2 separate regions of the Homo sapiens genome follow, and region 1 is linked to region 2. Evidence: fine-mapped expression QTL. A gene starts in region 2. The other region holds a variant in brackets. All regions are shown on one strand. Distances are between the middles of the regions. Region 1 overlaps C5-OT1 (C5 3' UTR overlapping transcript 1). Region 2 holds the start of PHF19 (PHD finger protein 19).

Region 1 (8,329 bases), 70 kb after region 2:
GGGGTCTGGGAATTTGCATTCCTGACAAACTCCCAGGCGGCCAGGGACCACACTTTGTATAGCATTGTTCTAAGGCTGACAGTCCTGAGGACCAAAAGAGGAAGGCAAATGGGAAAATTCGAGGCACTGGAGGAGGTTGTTTTTTAAGATAGTGGTCTTTTCCCAATTTTTAAAAAAGCACACCAGGCAGTCTCTGTCTATGGTATCTTAGCACAAAGATGCTTTTTGTTTTTAATGCTATGTTTATATTTGTGCAAGATTCTACATTTTAAAATTTCTCTCACTTGTTGGATCTTATTTCATCCTTGCAACAAATCTGTAAATTGGGTTGGGGGAAATTCTTTCATTATTTTTAAAAGATAGAACTGAGGCCTAGAGAGTTAAGACAGCTGGAAATCACACTCCAGCTGACTGCCACAGATTGTGGGCTCCTGAGTTGGCACTAAGGTGTTTTTCCTAATCATTATAACCCATTAGGGCTGATAATGTTACTTCCGCTTTCTAGATGGGCAAATTGAGACTTGATGAGGTTCAGGAACTCTCCCAAGGCCACAAGTCAGGGCAGCTCCTCTGTTTCATGGTTCAATGTCTTACTTCTTCACTGTATCACTTCCCCATACTAACTCCTCCTTTCTCTCTCTGTCTGTCAGTCACACACACACAACATAGCCAAATCAGTGAGCCATTTTAATTTCGACACCCAGCATTTATTTAATGAACAGACCACAGTTTGGCCTTTCGCCTTTAGAGGTGAAAGGAGGAGGCAAGAAGAGGATGAATGACGACCAGCCTTGCCCCAAGGCCCTAACAGACTCAGGAAACCTTTCTGCCTTCTCCTCCAACTCTAAGCATATCTCCTTTCCCTTCCTCTTCCTTTGCCCTCAGAGAATTACAGTCTAGTCCTGGCTCTAATTTCCTAAAGGTTCTTTATTTGGAAAATATATTATTAAGCCAAACAATCCTTTCCTTAACTCCAATTTCTCTTGTCTCATTCAGTTTCAACCCCCCTCCCACCGACCACCCTTCCAACACCAACACACACACACACACACACACACACACCCCTCCAGCCTAACAACAACAACACCAAAACCCTCTGATTGCTCCCAACTCATCTGTTAGACATGTTAGCCCTGGCCCTCACCACCAGGCTCGGGTCTCTGCTTGCCCCTGCAGGCAATGTTTCTATTAGGCCCTGAGGAGACACCAGGCTGCATATAGGAAGGCAGAGGAGCCTGGTGCTGCGGGTTCTAGCCCCAGCTCTGTTGTGGAACCCTCTTGGTGAGTCCTGGCTCCTCCCTGGGCCTGCTTCCTGGTCTGTGAAATGGGGAGGCATTGATGAGATGATCTCTAGAGGATCTTTAAATGTCAATATTTTATGAATCTAAGTAGGATGTTCACAGGTAAAAAATTATTGAATTTACCACCTCTAGTGTGCCAGAGAGGTATTATTACCCAGCCACAAGTTACTTTTATTGTGCCAGGCACTGTGCTAATCATTTTATGTGCATTATCTGTATTATCTCATTTGAGCCTTGCAGAAATCCTCTGACTTGGGTATTATTAGTACTTCTGTTTTTCAGATGTGAAAACTTCACCTTTTTATTAAAGCAGTCAAGTAGATGTTTTCTTGACTATTAAAAGTCTCTCAGCACTGAAGGGACATTAAGCCCCCTACCTTGAATTGCCCAGAAACATCCCTGGAAGGTGGCAGCTAGACTCTGCTCAGATGGCCCCAGCAATAAGGAACTTGGACCTGACTCTACTTTTGAATGGCTATGGCTATAAGAAAATGCTTCTTCACAGGGAGCCAAAACTGGTGTCTCTGTAACTCCTGCTCATCTCAGTGGTGGGAAGAATGCGGTGTTCAGAGGCCTCACTTGGGCTTCTGTCCTGGCCTTTCCATTTATCAGCACCATAATCCTAGACAAGCTGCTCCTCTGGACCTCCATGTTCACAGGCAAAAAATGAAGGAATCGGATGAGATGAGCTCTAGGTCCTTTCTGGTGTGGGCATTTTAGATTTGTATAATTCATGACTGTGCATGTAACATACACATATCTGACTATAATGATGGAAACAGAGAAGGAGTGGAATTTTGGTGGCGGGGGGCCTCTGTCAGGTATGAGGCTGTGAGCATGGTGTGTGTATGTGCATGTTTCTGGGACAGGGGTCTGTGAAAGAGAAGAGTGGCCCTGGACAACTGGCGTGAGGCCTCGGTGTCCCTGGGAGCCAGTCTGGTGCCCAGAGCCAGGCTGGGGTGTTCTCTGTGTCTGATGTCATAGAACATCAACATCAGACAAAATGGATCCATACTAAAAACGACTACTCTATAATCATGTTTGAGCAGGATATAAAAACAAGAACATTGTCCAAACCACAAAAATGACCACACACACCCTTTTCCTGGCTAAAGTGAGTAAGTGCTGCTACTTTTCCTCCCAGCTAGAAAAGAAATAAGATACTGGGTCATAGGATTGCCCCTGCTTCCTGAAAGCATCCAATCCAGAGTAAAGTTCCATTTCTTTGAGGCTCCTCCCAAATACTCTATCACAAGTACAAATCCTATAATAAGGCTTTTCTAATGCACTCTCACCGAGAAGCCTTATGGTCCCCATGGTGTGTGTTCTCCCTTGTTGCAAAGACTCAATAAACTGAAACTTGTTCAGTTCCAGGTATTCCTGGTTGTCTTGATTGGAGGGAATTGATAAGTCTATAGCTTTCATTAGATTCTGAAAAGGATGTGTATGTGGCTGGAGAAAATCCCACAACCCATGCTGATCAGTCCCACTTTAAATTCATGACTAGAAACTTCAAGTGGACCCTTAATACGAAGAAGCAAATATATTACAAGTCCTTAGTTGGTTCAGCCTCCCTCTCTTTTAGATAACTGTCTCACCCTTCTTTCCTCCCGTCACACCTCCAATTGCTCCTCCCTATCCTCCATCTCAGGTGATGATCTTCATCCTACTTCTCTGAGAAAGGGACTTCCACAGACTCTCACCACATCTACCCCTTGCCAGCGTCTGCTGCATGTGCTCAGCTTCTCTGCCTACAACCATGGGTCATGGATCAGGGATCGGTATGCTGCTGCCCAAGGGCTAAATCCAGCCTGCCTAGTCCATGCCCATTCTTTTCTGCATTATCTATGGCTGCATTTGTGCTACAATGAGAGAGTTGAGCAGTTGCAATAGAGACTTATGAGAATTATGGCCCACAAAGCCTAAAATATTACAGTTATTTTAATGCATGGCTCTTTACAGAAGTTTGCTGACCCCTGGCATAGGTGAGCTAGTCATGTTCTTATTTAAAGCCAAGTCCTCCACTTGTGCTCCAGATCCTATCCACTCTTACCTCTTCAAGGACATTACTCTAGTAGTTCTCCTTTCTCTCTCCTGCATCGTCAATTATTTACTCTTTACTGAGTCATTCCCTTTAGAACACAAATGTGTTATTTCTTCCGTCTTAAACTTTCCTTCACTCTACTCCCCTCAATCCATTTCTTTGCTCCTTGAATGAGTTGTCCATACTCCCTGTCTCCAAATCCTCTCCTCCTATCTACTCTTAAATCACTCTATTCAGGCTATTCTTCCCACTACTCCACCCAACCTGCCCTGTCAAAGTCACCAATGCTAAACCCAACAGCCAAGTCTTCATCTTACTTCTCTCTGAAGCATTTGATACAGTTCAACACTCTTCCTCCCAGAACCTCTTTCTTTTGTTTGGCTTGAGGGGACCTCATCTCTTGTTTTTTCTCCTAATTCAATGGATCCTCTATCTCTTTTCTCTAATAACTTCATCTTGGAATGCTCAAAA[T/G]GTCTATCCTTGGTCTTCTTTTTTTCCACTCCTCTGTCTGTATTCACATCCTTAGTGATCTTAACTAGTCTAATGGTTTTAGTATGCTGATGATTCTCAGATTTATGTTTTTCAGCCCAGAGCTCTCTCCTGAACTAGATAACTATATGACCAATTGCCTTCCAGGCTCCTTCACTTGGATGTTTAATAGATTTCTTCTAAAATTCAACACATCCAAAACTGAACAGATTCCTAACTCCCCACAACCTGCTCCATCTGCAGCCTTCCTAATCTCAGGCAACTCCATCTTTCCAGTTGTTCAGGCCAAAAGTCTTGGCATCATCCTTGACTCCTTTCTTTCTCTCACACTTATTTCCACTCTATCAGGGAATTCAGTTAAACCTACAATATTAGTCCCTTCAATTAAGCCTACTGTATTAGTCCCTTTTGTATTGCTATAAAGGAATACCTGAGGCTGCATAATTTATAAAGAAAAGAGATTTGTTTGGCGCACGGTTCTGCAGGCTATACGGGAAGCATGGTGCCAGCATCTGCTTCTGGTGAGGCCTCAGGAAGCTTACAGTCATGGTAGAAGGGAAAAAAGAGCCTAAGTGGCACATGGTGAGAGAGGAAGCAACCAGCTAGAAGGAGGTGCCAGGCTCTTTATAAACAATCAGATCTCGTGGTAACTCACAGAGTAAGAACTCTCATTACCATGGGGAGGGCACCAAGCCATTCACGAGGGATCCACTCCCATGGCCCAAACATCTTCCACCTCGCCTCACTTCCAACACTGGGGATCACATTTCAACATGTGATTTTGGGGGACAAATATCCAAACTGTATCATTTACTTTTAAAGTATATCCAGAATTCAACCACTTTTCAATACCTCCACTGCTACCACTCTGGTCTGAGGCACCATCATCCCTCACCTAGTTTATTACAGTAGCCTCCTATCCGTTCTCTTTACCCTTGCCTTATTTTCAACAGCAGTTACAGTAGTCCTTTAAAAAGGCAAGACAGACCATGTCACTCTTCTTTTCAAAGCCTTGCAATGGCTCCTGTTTCCTTCCAAGTAAAGCCAAAGCCTCTTCCATTGGCTTCATAATCTGCACCTGCCACCCCTGCTTCCTTGCTTTTCCTGTGACACACCAGCATGCTCCTGCCTTAGGCCGGACACTATGTACCAAGAGTGCCAGGAACACTCTCCCCTTGGCTAGCTATGTGGCTCACTCTTTCACATCCTTCAAGTCTTTGCTCAAATTTCACCTTCTCATTGAAGCCCACCCTGACCTGGCCACCCTATTTAGAACTGCAACCCCTCCCCTGACCATTACCAGTCTCCTTTAGTCTGCTTTTTCTTTTTCCCATTGCTCTTATCACTTTCTGAGATCCAAGACTAATTGCTTAATTATTCTCTTTATTTTTTATTACATATCTCTCCCAGTTGGAATCTATGTTCCACAATGGCAGGGATCTTGGTACCAAGCACCTAGAATTGGGCCTAGCCTGCAGTCACCAATCAATACATGTTTGTTGGGTGTTGCTGAATACATCAGCATCATAGGGTCTGGAAAGAAAGACTAAACATGACTTTGGTCCAGAATTTCTCACTGAGAAATATGGAGCAAGGCTGCTTGCCTCAACCTTGGCTCACAGACCTCCACGTGTTTTCTTAAGACAGAGTATCTTAAACGTCAATCATTTGCATGCCAACTGCATGATTTTTGCCCTAAGAATAAACTTACTTTTATTTACTCAATACTTTTTCTTAAATAGACTTACTTCTTGGAAAATAGATTTATTTTGGAAGAAAATGTTACATCATGGCTTTGATGTGCTAATTACTTTTTTAAAATACATGTTAAAATAAACATATAGCCACTAAAGTGAACAATGTGCATCGTATCACCTAAGAACATCTTGCTTACCCCTGGGGAAACCTGCCTTAAGCGTTGCCCCTTAACCAGAAAGGCCTTCCCTGTACCTCCCACCTACCCAAATCCCAGTGTCCTTCTACAGAAAGCCTTGGCAGCTCTTCCAGCTTACTTCTCTGCACTGTCTCCATACTTACAGACAAAATATGTAAGCCCAGGCCGGCCATAGTGGCTCACGCCTGTAATCCCGGCACTTTGGGAGGCCAAGGGAGGTAGATCACCTGAGGTCAGGCGTTCGAGACCAGCCTGACCAACATGGCGAAAACCTATCTGTACTAAATACAAAAAATTAGCTGGGTGTGGTGGCACATGTCTGTAATCCTAGCTACTTGGAAGGCTGAGGCAGGAGAATTGCTTGAACCCGGGAGGCGGAGGTTGCAGTGAGCCGAGATTGCGCCATTGCACTCCAGCCTGGGCAACAAGAGCAAAACTGTGTCTCAAAAAAAAAAAAAAAAAAAAAAGAGAGAAAGAAAGAATGAAATACATAAGCCCAATATTTGGATGCTTATATGCCGTTTGGTTTTTCCTGTTTCACATCATAAGATTATAGAACATCTTCTTAGCTATAGATAAAAGAGACATTAGAGTGTCCAATTCCCTTATTTTATAGGCTATCAAAGAGATTAAGAGGCTTGTCCCAAATCACTGCCAATTAGGGCCAAAGCCAAGACTAGAACTTGGGTCTTCTGATTCTCTACACTGTAGGGGAATCCACAAACACTTATTGAGTCCCTATGATGTGCCCGACATTGTGCCAACTACAGGAGATACTGGCGAATAGAACAGACTCAGACCTTACCTAAGTGGAGCTTTCAGTGTGGTCACGCTAAACTAATAATTCAATCTGATTAAGTAAATCATTGCAAGAGCACAAGTGCCTTGGAGGAGAAGTGCAGGGTTGGGTAATGGGCCCAGCCTGGTTTGGAGGGTCACAAAAGCCTCACTGAGAAAATATGTTCAAATGCATAGGAGTTAGCTGAAGAGGAGCTGGCAGATATTTTAAATGGTGCCAGGCTAATTCACAAAACCTTCTTTGATATTTGACAGCTGCATTGTGGGTTAATTAGGCCACTGTGGCCTGCCCTATTTGCCAAAGTGCTCAGGAAAAGGCAGTCAGACTCCTGTGCCTTCGAAGCAGCACCAGTGGTTCCCTCCTCCCAGCAAGGAAGTGACAGGAGACACCGAGAGGCCTGCTCTGGAGAAGGTCTCCTCACCCCTCGCTGACAGGGAGTGTGGGCATCTTGAACATGACACATTGGTTGTTTTTGCCAAGGGAGTGCCTACAATGTGAGCTTTGACATTAGAGAAAAATAAGTCCTTAGTCCCTGGAAGTGGAAAATCTTAGTGTTATTTACAAAGGCACACTACAAGGCCTTGTGTAGCTTCACCTAACTAGTAAAAAGCAGACTCTTCAAAAGGAGATGCATTCCAGTCTCTGTTAATTACCGTTACATCCGGAGGTCATCTTCATGTTTCCTGTGATAGTTCAGTGGGGCTGGTTAATCTGTGTCTAAGAAACTTCTACTATATCCTGCCTTACTGTTAGAAAATTCAACCCAACAAGCAATATGTAGTGATGTGGAACAGAGATGTATTTAAACTGAGATAGAGTCTTGGGGTTTGATTTCCAATTCTTTTCCTTACTAGGTTGGGAAAACTGCTTTACTTTTCTGAACCTCAATTTTCTTTTCTTTTTCTTTTTTCTTTTTTGAGATGGAGTCTCACTCTGTCACCTAGGCTGGAATGCAGTGGCATGATCTCGGCTCACTGCAACGTCCACTTCCTGGGTTCAAGTGATCCTCCTGCCTCAGCCTACTGAGTACCTGGGATTACAGGCTTGCTAAATTAGCCTGGCTAATTTTTATATTTTTAGTAGAGATGGGGTTTCACTATGTTGGCCAGGCTGGTCTCGAACTCCTGACCTCAAGTGATCTGCCCGCCTTGGCCTCCCAAAGTGCTGGGATTACAGGCTTGAGCCACCATGCCAGGCCTAAATCTCAATTTTCTTATCTGTAAGATGGGGATGATAATGATAATAATTTCTGAATCTTGTGAGAGGCTTGAGACATTAAATGAGAATATATGCGAGAGCTTTTTAATATGATCTGAAGTGCTGCAAAATGTCACTTAAAAATTAACTTCTGTTATGTATCCTCTTTTATAAAGCTCAAATTGAGGCTCAGAGAGAGACCTGGTTAGGGCTGGAGAAAGGTCTCCCGATCCGCCACTCAGTTTCTTTTCACCAGGTTGCTGCACTGGGGCCTGTCTTTTAGTAAAGCAATTGTTGGCGAGAGCAGGTTCCTGGGGGAAATGAACATGTGCCGGAAGGGAGGGAAAGAGAGTAGAGGGTCTCCCTTCAGGGGTATGGAGAGGGCAATGGACGGGGAGGGGGCAGGGACAAACCCACCTACCTTCTCAGTGCGCTGAGGGCTCTGAGGCTAAGCCCGCTCAAGGTTAAGGTTCTCTACTGCTGACTTTCTCCATCTCTCTCAATTTGCCTGTCTTTGTGTGGTTGAAGCTGATCTAGCATAAAATAACAGGCTTTTTAGCACAGTTTGAAAGCAAACTCAGGCTTTAATGATCAGTTTCCTGTTC
Region 2 (8,329 bases):
TGGAAGGACAGAAGGAAGAAATGAAGGCAGCAGAGGAGAGAAGACCTGGGGAGGTTGGGGGCTACCCGAAATGTTAGGAAAACTCACCATGCTGTATGTCCTTCCATAGGACCCAGTATTTGGAATTATCTTCGAAAGTCACGAGGCAGCTTTGCTTAGAGCTGCTGACCTGGGGTACAGATAGGAAGGAGCAAGTGAGAAAGGGCTGGGGAAAAGCCAACCTGGAACATAGTCTTCCTCCCCCATTTTTGTCTCCGTATGTTCCAGAAAGCAGGGCTAGAAGGGGAAGAAGGATGGCAGTTCCTGGACAGGGTGTACTCCTAGTCACCTGGAGTCGTACAGCCAGGGACCGATGGATGGCAACTTGGTCAGAATGTTGAGGACAGAAGCACAAGTCAGATGCTCCTCTGTGATCCTCTCAAACCTGACTTTTTTGTTTTGTAGGCTCTCAGAGCACTTTTCTAAAGAACTAGTTGGATGATGTTGACCCTAGGGATGGTGCCTGCAAGACCAGGCTCTGGCCCCTCCCACCACCAGCTTTGGGCATGAGGGACAAGAAGGGAATTCTCCAGCAATCCCCCTGCCCCCTGGTCTGACAGCCAGGCTGGAACATGAGCAGAGAGATTCTGAGTCTGAGAACAGGGGCCAGAGAGGATGGGTTTACCCTCTTGATCTTCCCGAGGTAGTACAGGCCATCTGTCCACCGGCACAGCACATACTGGCCCTCCGTCAGTTTGGACATCAAGTCTTTGAAGTTGTTCTTGACCTTCGCCAGGGCCCCCTTGTTGGGGAGGTGGCTGGTGGCACCATAGGAGTCCCGAGTCCCTGGATCCAGAGCTCGATTCTCCATCAGCTTCCCCTGACACTGGGAGAGAAAGAACAGGGTTTTTGCTTCTTGCTTCCCTGCTTCAGAAAGCCCATCAGGGGAAGGAAGGAAACCACCATTTCTGTACCCTGTGCTATAAGCCAGACTTGGTTATTATCTCACTGATTCCTCGTGACCATCCTATGAGGGAGACATTATTATTATTCACATCTTACAGATAGGGAAACAGGTGTGGCAAGGAGAAGAGGCTGATGGGCCAAAGGCAGAGCCATGGCCCATACCACACTACCTTTTAAAGAGAATGGATCTCTCAACCCACACAGAACAAAGTCCCCTACCCAGCGGGCCTGAACCACTCCCTGTCTCAGGAGGCTGAGGTTTTATTCCTTAAGCAAACACAGTCCATGTGCTCTGGATGGAGGATCTTCTCCAGGCAAGCAGTTGGGTTTTGTTTTTACCCCCAACCCCTGCAACCATCCCTAACCTGAGATCTGTCCAGAGAAAATTCACCTAGAAAGGAAAACTGGGTGGCTTGTAGCTAGTGTAGACTGGGTCATCTGTCTTTTGTAATCCCCCCTTCTGTTCTCAATTATGAGATGATTTAATGGAAACCAATTCTGGGACATTTAAACCCACTTATGCTTTCACCCAGATACACATTTGCTCCAAGCAGTGAAGTCATCCATCCCCATGCCAGCCTCTCCACGCCTGTCTCTCACCATCCTATTCAACGTGCAGTTCACCCATCGATTTCTCTCTCCCTGCCTGTGGTACTGCCTTCATGCATCTCAAACTCCTCCAAGCAATTAGTTGCCACAGCCGGCCCATTTTAAGTGCCATGATTTCTGGCTTTCCAGCTCTAGCTTCCATCCTCCTGCCCTGGTCTCAGTTCAGGCCTCATCTTTTGCTTGGGCCATTCATTCATTCATTCATTCACCCAATAACAGTTTCCTGGGCCTTGTGCTTACCTCCACTAGGCACCTAGGGTGGGGAACGGTACTACCAGCACCCAGTGCTAAACAGGCCGTTCCTGCATTCCTGCCTCTCCACCAGACTCTTCCGCAGGGCCACCAATTTCCTTCCAGAAACTTTCTGGGGCTCCCCACTGCCCTCACTGGTGCTCAAAGCCGTCCCTAACGCCCCCTCCTTTCTGCTGGGCTCACCTGGCTCCAAGTCCCTCCACATGCTCTCCACTACAGCCACACACAGCCTCTCTCTTTCCCCGCGGGCCTACTCGGGTCTCCTCCTTGTGGCCATGGCGCTGGGCACCTGGTGTTGTGACTATCTGTTCACAGGGAGAGAGTCCAGTGCCTGTTTCTGTGTGGTGCGTGTGTGTACTCCTGTGAGACTGGGCAGGATGATGTCTACGGCATTGTGCCAGGGAGTGTGTGAAGCTAAGTATGTGCGGGGCCCTGGGGCGAGCCAGGCACTGCAGGGGTCTCGGCTCCCCAGATGGTGGCGTGGCCACGACCTTCTCCACCCCCACTCCCATCTCCTTTTTCTCCAGCGCAGAGCGCACAGGCTCCCGGGCAGGGGATGCGGTCTGAATCCCTGTCCTCTCCCTGCCACCTGGCTCGCCCGGCGCTGCGAGGTCCCCGCCCGCCCGGCCAGGGGCCAGGCCGGGGCCGCTGCAGGTTCACAAACTGACACTTCCTCTCCCGCTGCGCCTCTAGGAGCCGGCCGGGTCGCCGCACCCGCCTCCACCCTGGCCGGGCGGGGGCCCCCGGGTGGCGCCCCCCCAGCCCCCGCCTCCGTCCTCCCGGAGCGGGCCCCCGCGGGCTGTGATTGGCTGATTCAAACCCATTTGCAAAGAAATGCCTGTTTGCGGGTTCCCGTCTGCGTCCAGTTCAAATCCGCGGCACCGGGAGCGCGGGGCCGGGCGGGGGCAGGAAGCGAGGATGATTCATGCGCCGGGGCCTCTCCCAGGGCGGCCGTTGGCTTTTTAAAAAGGATGTTCAGGAGGGGGGAAAAAGCTTGCAGAAGCACCCCCTTCGGGTTCAGCGCTCCTCTCCTCAGTCGCTCGGACGCCAAGCCTCCCCCATCCCAACCCTGCCGCAGCCTGACTTCGGACGTGAGCGAAATGCCAAACGCCCGTCTGTCCTTCCCCCACCCCGATAGGAAAATTAAAGATCGGGGGCGAGGAAGAACGACCTGTCACCCATGCCCCCCGGGGCTCGGGAACCCGGGTGGGGCCCCTCTGCCCCGCAGGTAACCTGCACCCCCGGTCCCCACCCCCGAGAGCCCCGCTCCGCAGGAGTCTCACCCCCCGGAGGCGTTCGGGCCGCCAAAGTTCAGGGAGATTTCGAAAAGAGAGGGATGAGGGCCGGGAGGGGAGAGCGTGGCGGGGAGTCCGCCCAACAGCGCAGAACTCACCGCGAGGCTGCGTGTCCGCCGGTCCCACTTGGAGTCTGGCCACCAGGCGCATCGGTGGCGGAGGCGGCTGCGCTCGGCCCGCGGCTGCCCGGCCGAGTGTCCGCCCGTGGGGCCGGGGTCGGGGTCTCGGCGGGGGCGGGGCGGGGCGGGGGCGCCGCGGGGAGGAGGGGGAGGCGGCGGAGGGAGGGGCCGGGGCGCTCAGGAAGGGGCCCCCCGGGCGCGGGGCGCCATCTTTTTCGCGTTTTCCCGCGAATTATTGACGTCCCGCTTATGTAATTAGCGGGGGCCGCGCCGGCCTCGCCATTGGAGCCCGCGGCCGCCGGGCTCCGCAGCGCCGCCAGCCCCCGCCCGCCCCCGCCCGCCCCGCGGGCGCGCATCCTCCGCGGCCACTAGCCAGGACCCGGGCCCCCCGCCGAGGAGCGGCCACACCGCGGCGCACACGGAGACGCCAGGCAGCGCTCATGGCGCACACGACCGCTCGCACACTTGTTGAGGAAACACAGCTCTGCGCGCAGGCACCGGCGGACCCTGGCACAGACACACAGCAGGGCGGCGCGGACCCTTGGCGCAGACACAGACCCAGGACGCCCAAACAGGCCACACAACACCTTGCACTAACAGCACAGGCGTTCGGCACAGAGACACAGCACAAGTATAATGTAGATACACAACACACAGTGCACAACGCATGTTGTTCCGACACAGGTCAGAACACACCACAGCATGTACAGGACACAAACACACCACAAAGAGAAGTACTGTACACACCAGCCATAGGCATAGATACACAAGGGGGAACACACTGTACACAACAGAGACACACAACAGAACATGCATGTAAGGTAGACGGACATAACACATAAAGTCACAACACAGACGGGCAAGAGACACAAGTTTTCCTGAAAAAGTGGCATTCAGATAGGTTGTGGAAATAGGTTAGTGGGTGTGCCAGGTGGAGGGAATTCAGTGGGCTAACAATGCAATTTTTAAAATACGGGTTAAGGATATCAAAAGGCAATTCACAAAAGAGGAAACCTACATGGCCGAAATAGCCCCAAACAACAAATTGCGTAGAGACACAGTGCACAGAAATACATGGTACAATCGCAAATATATACCACACGCACAACATGTCATGTAAATAAAGGGCACACAATGAAAGACAACATGCACAGAGTCATAGGAATGGCAGATGGAGTCAGTGGGCAGAGCTCCAATCATAGGGACCCTGCCCTGTGGGGGAAAGGCAGACATGGCCCCACCCAGACTCACTCTTGGGGGAAGGGAGGAAGAACACTTACCAATAACCCCACCCCCATCCTTGCCCTCAGTCCACAGCGCCCACCTCTGTGGCTACCATCCCACTCTGCAGACACCCCCACCAGACAGGGATATGTGCTTTCATGGGTGTGGCCAGTGGACAGCACCTTCCCCCAGAGCCTTCCCTGTTCACTGTCAGTTGCTCACTCTGGGCCCTCTGCCTCCTGGCCTTGGAGCATGATCTGTGCAGCCCCCCACCTCACCTTCTCAGCAGAGATCCAGGAGTCCTTTCACCTCCTTCCTCACTTCCTTCTGCCCCTTGATCCCCCTGCTCTCACCTGCCTCACTGCCCCATTCTGGATCCTGGCGCCTCAGCAGAACCTAGCACTGCTGAGTACCTGCCTGAACCTGGAAGGAAAGCCTGGGAGCAGCCCCATGGCACAAAATCTCCCAATCCTGGAGAGCACATTTTCAAGTCCCAAAGGGGCCCTAGGATTGTGCTACTTAACCATGTTCTGCCAAGAGAAGGTGTGTCCAACGCGGGTAGGGCTGATGATGGGAGCAGAACACTCCCACTAGCTTCTAAGCTGGCTGGGTCTGCCTTCAGGATGCTGGGGGACAGAGATGATAGAGCGAAGTGCTCACCTCTGAGGCTACAGGCCAGCTCCACCCATTACTGGCCATGGGAGCCTGAGTGTGTCACTTCTTTCTTTCTTTTTTTTTTAAACAATTCTTGCTCCAGAGACTTTAAGTCTTAAGCCTCCGTGTCCTCACCTAAATAGAGTTATTGGGAAGGTTAGAGTTAATGTATGCAAAGCCCCTGGTGCCCAGTAGGTGTGCAGTAAGTGATCATTGTATTAATACTTTGTTAAGAAATTCTGTATTCAGAATCTTGATTGCCCCACTGTGTGGGACTAGAGCGGGGGGATGTGAGACACACAGGTGGATGGGAGACACACAGGTGGATGAGAGACAAGGAACTGGCAACCTCGTGGAGGAGGCGGTGTTGATGCATAGATAAATAAGAGGGGATTGTGCTGTGAGCTGCACGTGGAATTGAATTGTCCTGGCTTCAAGTCCAGCTCTGCCTCTGAGCCAGGGCGGGGTCTTGGGTTAGCTAGACCCTCCTACACCATGTTTCTTTATCGGTTGAAAAGAGGGTAATAATACTACCCATCTCGTGGGGCTGTTGCATAAATGTTCAAATAAGACAATGAAGGAGCAGGTGCTTTTGTAAACTAAAAAGTTTGATATGCAAAATAAGAAGTTAAAACACTACAGAACAGGAAATTATAAATGCCACAAGAAAGGTACGGTGTCACCAGTGATTATTTAGAGGCAACTCTAAATTCGAATTGAGGAAAGAGAACAAGTTTCCCGGAAAAAGTAGCAATCAGTTAGGTTGTGGAAATAGGGAGGTGGGTGTGCCAGGTGGAGGGAGTTTAATGGGCTGACCAACAATCCAATTTTTTAAATATGGATTAAGGATATCAACAGGCAACTCACAAAAGAGGAAACCTAAATGGCTAAAATAGCCTAAAATGTGAAAAGGTGCTCAACCTTATTGGCCACGTGAGAGACGCAAATGAAGAGAACTGTGATACACCATTACACATCCACCAGATGGGCACGGAGTCGAGTCTGTCAATATAGGGGGGTGGGGGGTGAGGATGTCGCACAGTTGGGACCCTCAAATACCTATGGAGATATGAACTGGTAAAACGATTTTGGAGAACAGTTTGGCAACTTGTAAGAAAGTGGAAGATACTCATAGCTACAATTCAATGACTCCACTCGTCATTCAGCGCATAATTGTGAAAATTTAGAAATTAATGAATTATCCATGAACAGCAGTCCAGATAGGCCAGGCACTGTGGCTCATGCCTGTAATCCCAGCACTTTGGGAGGCCAAGGCAGGTGGATCACTTGAGGTCAGGAGTTTGAGACCAGCCTGATCAATATGGTGAAATCCCGTCTCTACTAAAAATACAAAAATTAGCCGGGCATGGTGGCGTGTGCCTGTAGTCCCAGCTACTTGGGAGGCTGAGACAGGAGAATTGTTTGAACCTGGGAGGTGGAGGTTGCATTGAGCGAAATCGTGCCACTGCACTCCAGCCTGAGTGACTGAGCGAGACTCCGTCTCAACAAACAAACAGCAGACCAGATAGATTAATTGTGATGTAGTCATACAATGGAATAATATACTGGGAGTAAAAATAAACTAAGTCTGCAGCCTCAACATAGTTACACCCTAGGAAAAAAACTAACATCAAGTTGTAGCATAGGTACAGTGTGACACAAATGATAAAAAATGTTTCTTAACGCATTCAGCTGGGCCCGTGGCTCAAGTCTGTATTCCAGCGCTTTGGGAGGCTATGGTGGGAAGATCGCTTGAGCCCAGGAGTTCAAGACCAGCCTGGGCAACATGGCGAAACCCTATCTCTACTAAAAATACAAAAATTAGCTGGGCATGATGGCATGCACCTGTAGTCCCAGCTACTTGGGAGACTGAGGTGGGAAGATTGATTGAGCCCAGGAGTTTGAGGCCACAGTAAGCCATGATTGTGCCACTGCACTCCAGCCTGGGTGACAGAGAGAGACTTTCTCAAAAACAAACAAACAAACAACAAAAAACCCAAAGAAATACAAAATAAGCTATGTAGACATTTTGGGGCTACAGTCAGCTAGTAAAAGTATTGAAACATGCATGGGAAATCAAAGACCCTAGATTTAGAATAGGGTAACCTTTGGGAAGGGAGGGACAGGAATGAGATCAGAAGGAAGCACATCGGGGGTTTGTTTTTTTTTTTTTTTTTTGAGAGAGTCTCGCTCTGTTGCCCAGGCTGGAGTGCAGTGGCGCGATCTCGGCTCACTGCAACCTCCGCCTCCCGGGTTCACGCCCTTCTCCTGCCTCAGCCTCCCGAGTAGCTGGGACTACAGGCACCCACCACCACGCCCCGCTGATTTTTTATATTTTTAGTAGAGACGGGCTTTCACCGTGTTAGCCAAGATGGTCTTGATCTCCTGACCTCGTGATCCGCCCACTTCTGCCTCCCAAAGTGCTGGGATTACAGGCGTGAGTCACCGTGCCTGGCCCACAGGGGGTTTAATTCTATCTGTATGTTTTATTTCTTAGAAAAAAAAATTAAAATCTGAGGCAAGTATGACCAAGTGTCAAGATGTAACAGAGCTGGGTGGTTGATCCATAGTTGTTCTCTCTGATCCTTCTCCTTCTCAAGTCTAAAACTTTTCCATGTTTGAGATATTTGGTGATTTTAAAGGTGGGAGGGGCAGGAAGCTATGAGGAGATTGCAGCAGAGGAGGTTTTGATGATAGCATTGCTTGTTAGGTGTCCAGGGTGGTTACAGTGCACAGTGTCCCCTCATGCATGGGACTGATCACCCTTCTTATTTGTTTGTTTGTTTATTTGAGATGAAGTCTTGCTCTGTTGCCTAGGCCAGAGTGCAGTGGCACGATCTCGGCTCACTGCAAACTCTGCCTCCCAGGTTCAAGCAATTCTCCTGCCTCAGCCTCCTGGGTAGCCGGGGTTCCAGGTGCACGCTATCACGCCTGGCTAATTTTTGTATTTTTAGTAGAGATTGGGTTTCACCATGTTGGTCAGGCTGGTCTTGAACTCCTGACTTCATGATCCACCAGCCTTGGCCTTCCAAAGTGTTGGGATTACAGGTGCGTGCCACTGCACCTGGCCCACCCTTCTCTTTTAAGGCTTGTCACAGCGTGGTGAGCCAGGTGTGGCAGGCATCAGGTCCATTTTGCAGGGGATGAAATGGAGGTTTGGAAAGGCGTAGTGATAAACTCAGTGTCACACACAATAGAGAGTCAGGGCTTGTCCCCTCTGCTCAGCAGTGT

The links. PIP is the estimated chance that this variant, and not a neighbour inherited with it, causes the effect.
Region 1: its variant is fine-mapped to the expression of PHF19 in whole blood (TOPMed, PIP above 0.99).

The regions. Positions count from the first base shown.
Region 1 is chr9:120,944,047-120,952,375 of GRCh38, forward strand. C5-OT1 (C5 3' UTR overlapping transcript 1) reads right to left here. Exons shown (of 2, transcript NR_148450.1): 1 at 8,146-8,329. It overlaps C5 (complement C5), which reads right to left. Exons shown (of 41, transcript NM_001735.3): 41 at 8,289-8,329. Among named protein-coding and RNA genes, the nearest start is that of C5-OT1, 4.6 kb to the right of the region's middle. RefSeq lists an enhancer at 800-849. The variant T/G (reference allele first, on the strand shown) is at 3,817.
Region 2 is chr9:120,873,892-120,882,220 of GRCh38, forward strand. PHF19 (PHD finger protein 19) reads right to left here and starts at 3,297. Exons shown (of 15, transcript NM_015651.3): 1 at 3,200-3,297; 2 at 665-865; 3 at 88-169. The coding sequence starts at 850. RefSeq lists enhancers at 1-323, 2,134-2,725, 3,737-3,786, 4,047-4,096 and silencers at 2,317-2,766, 3,047-3,096, 3,337-3,616.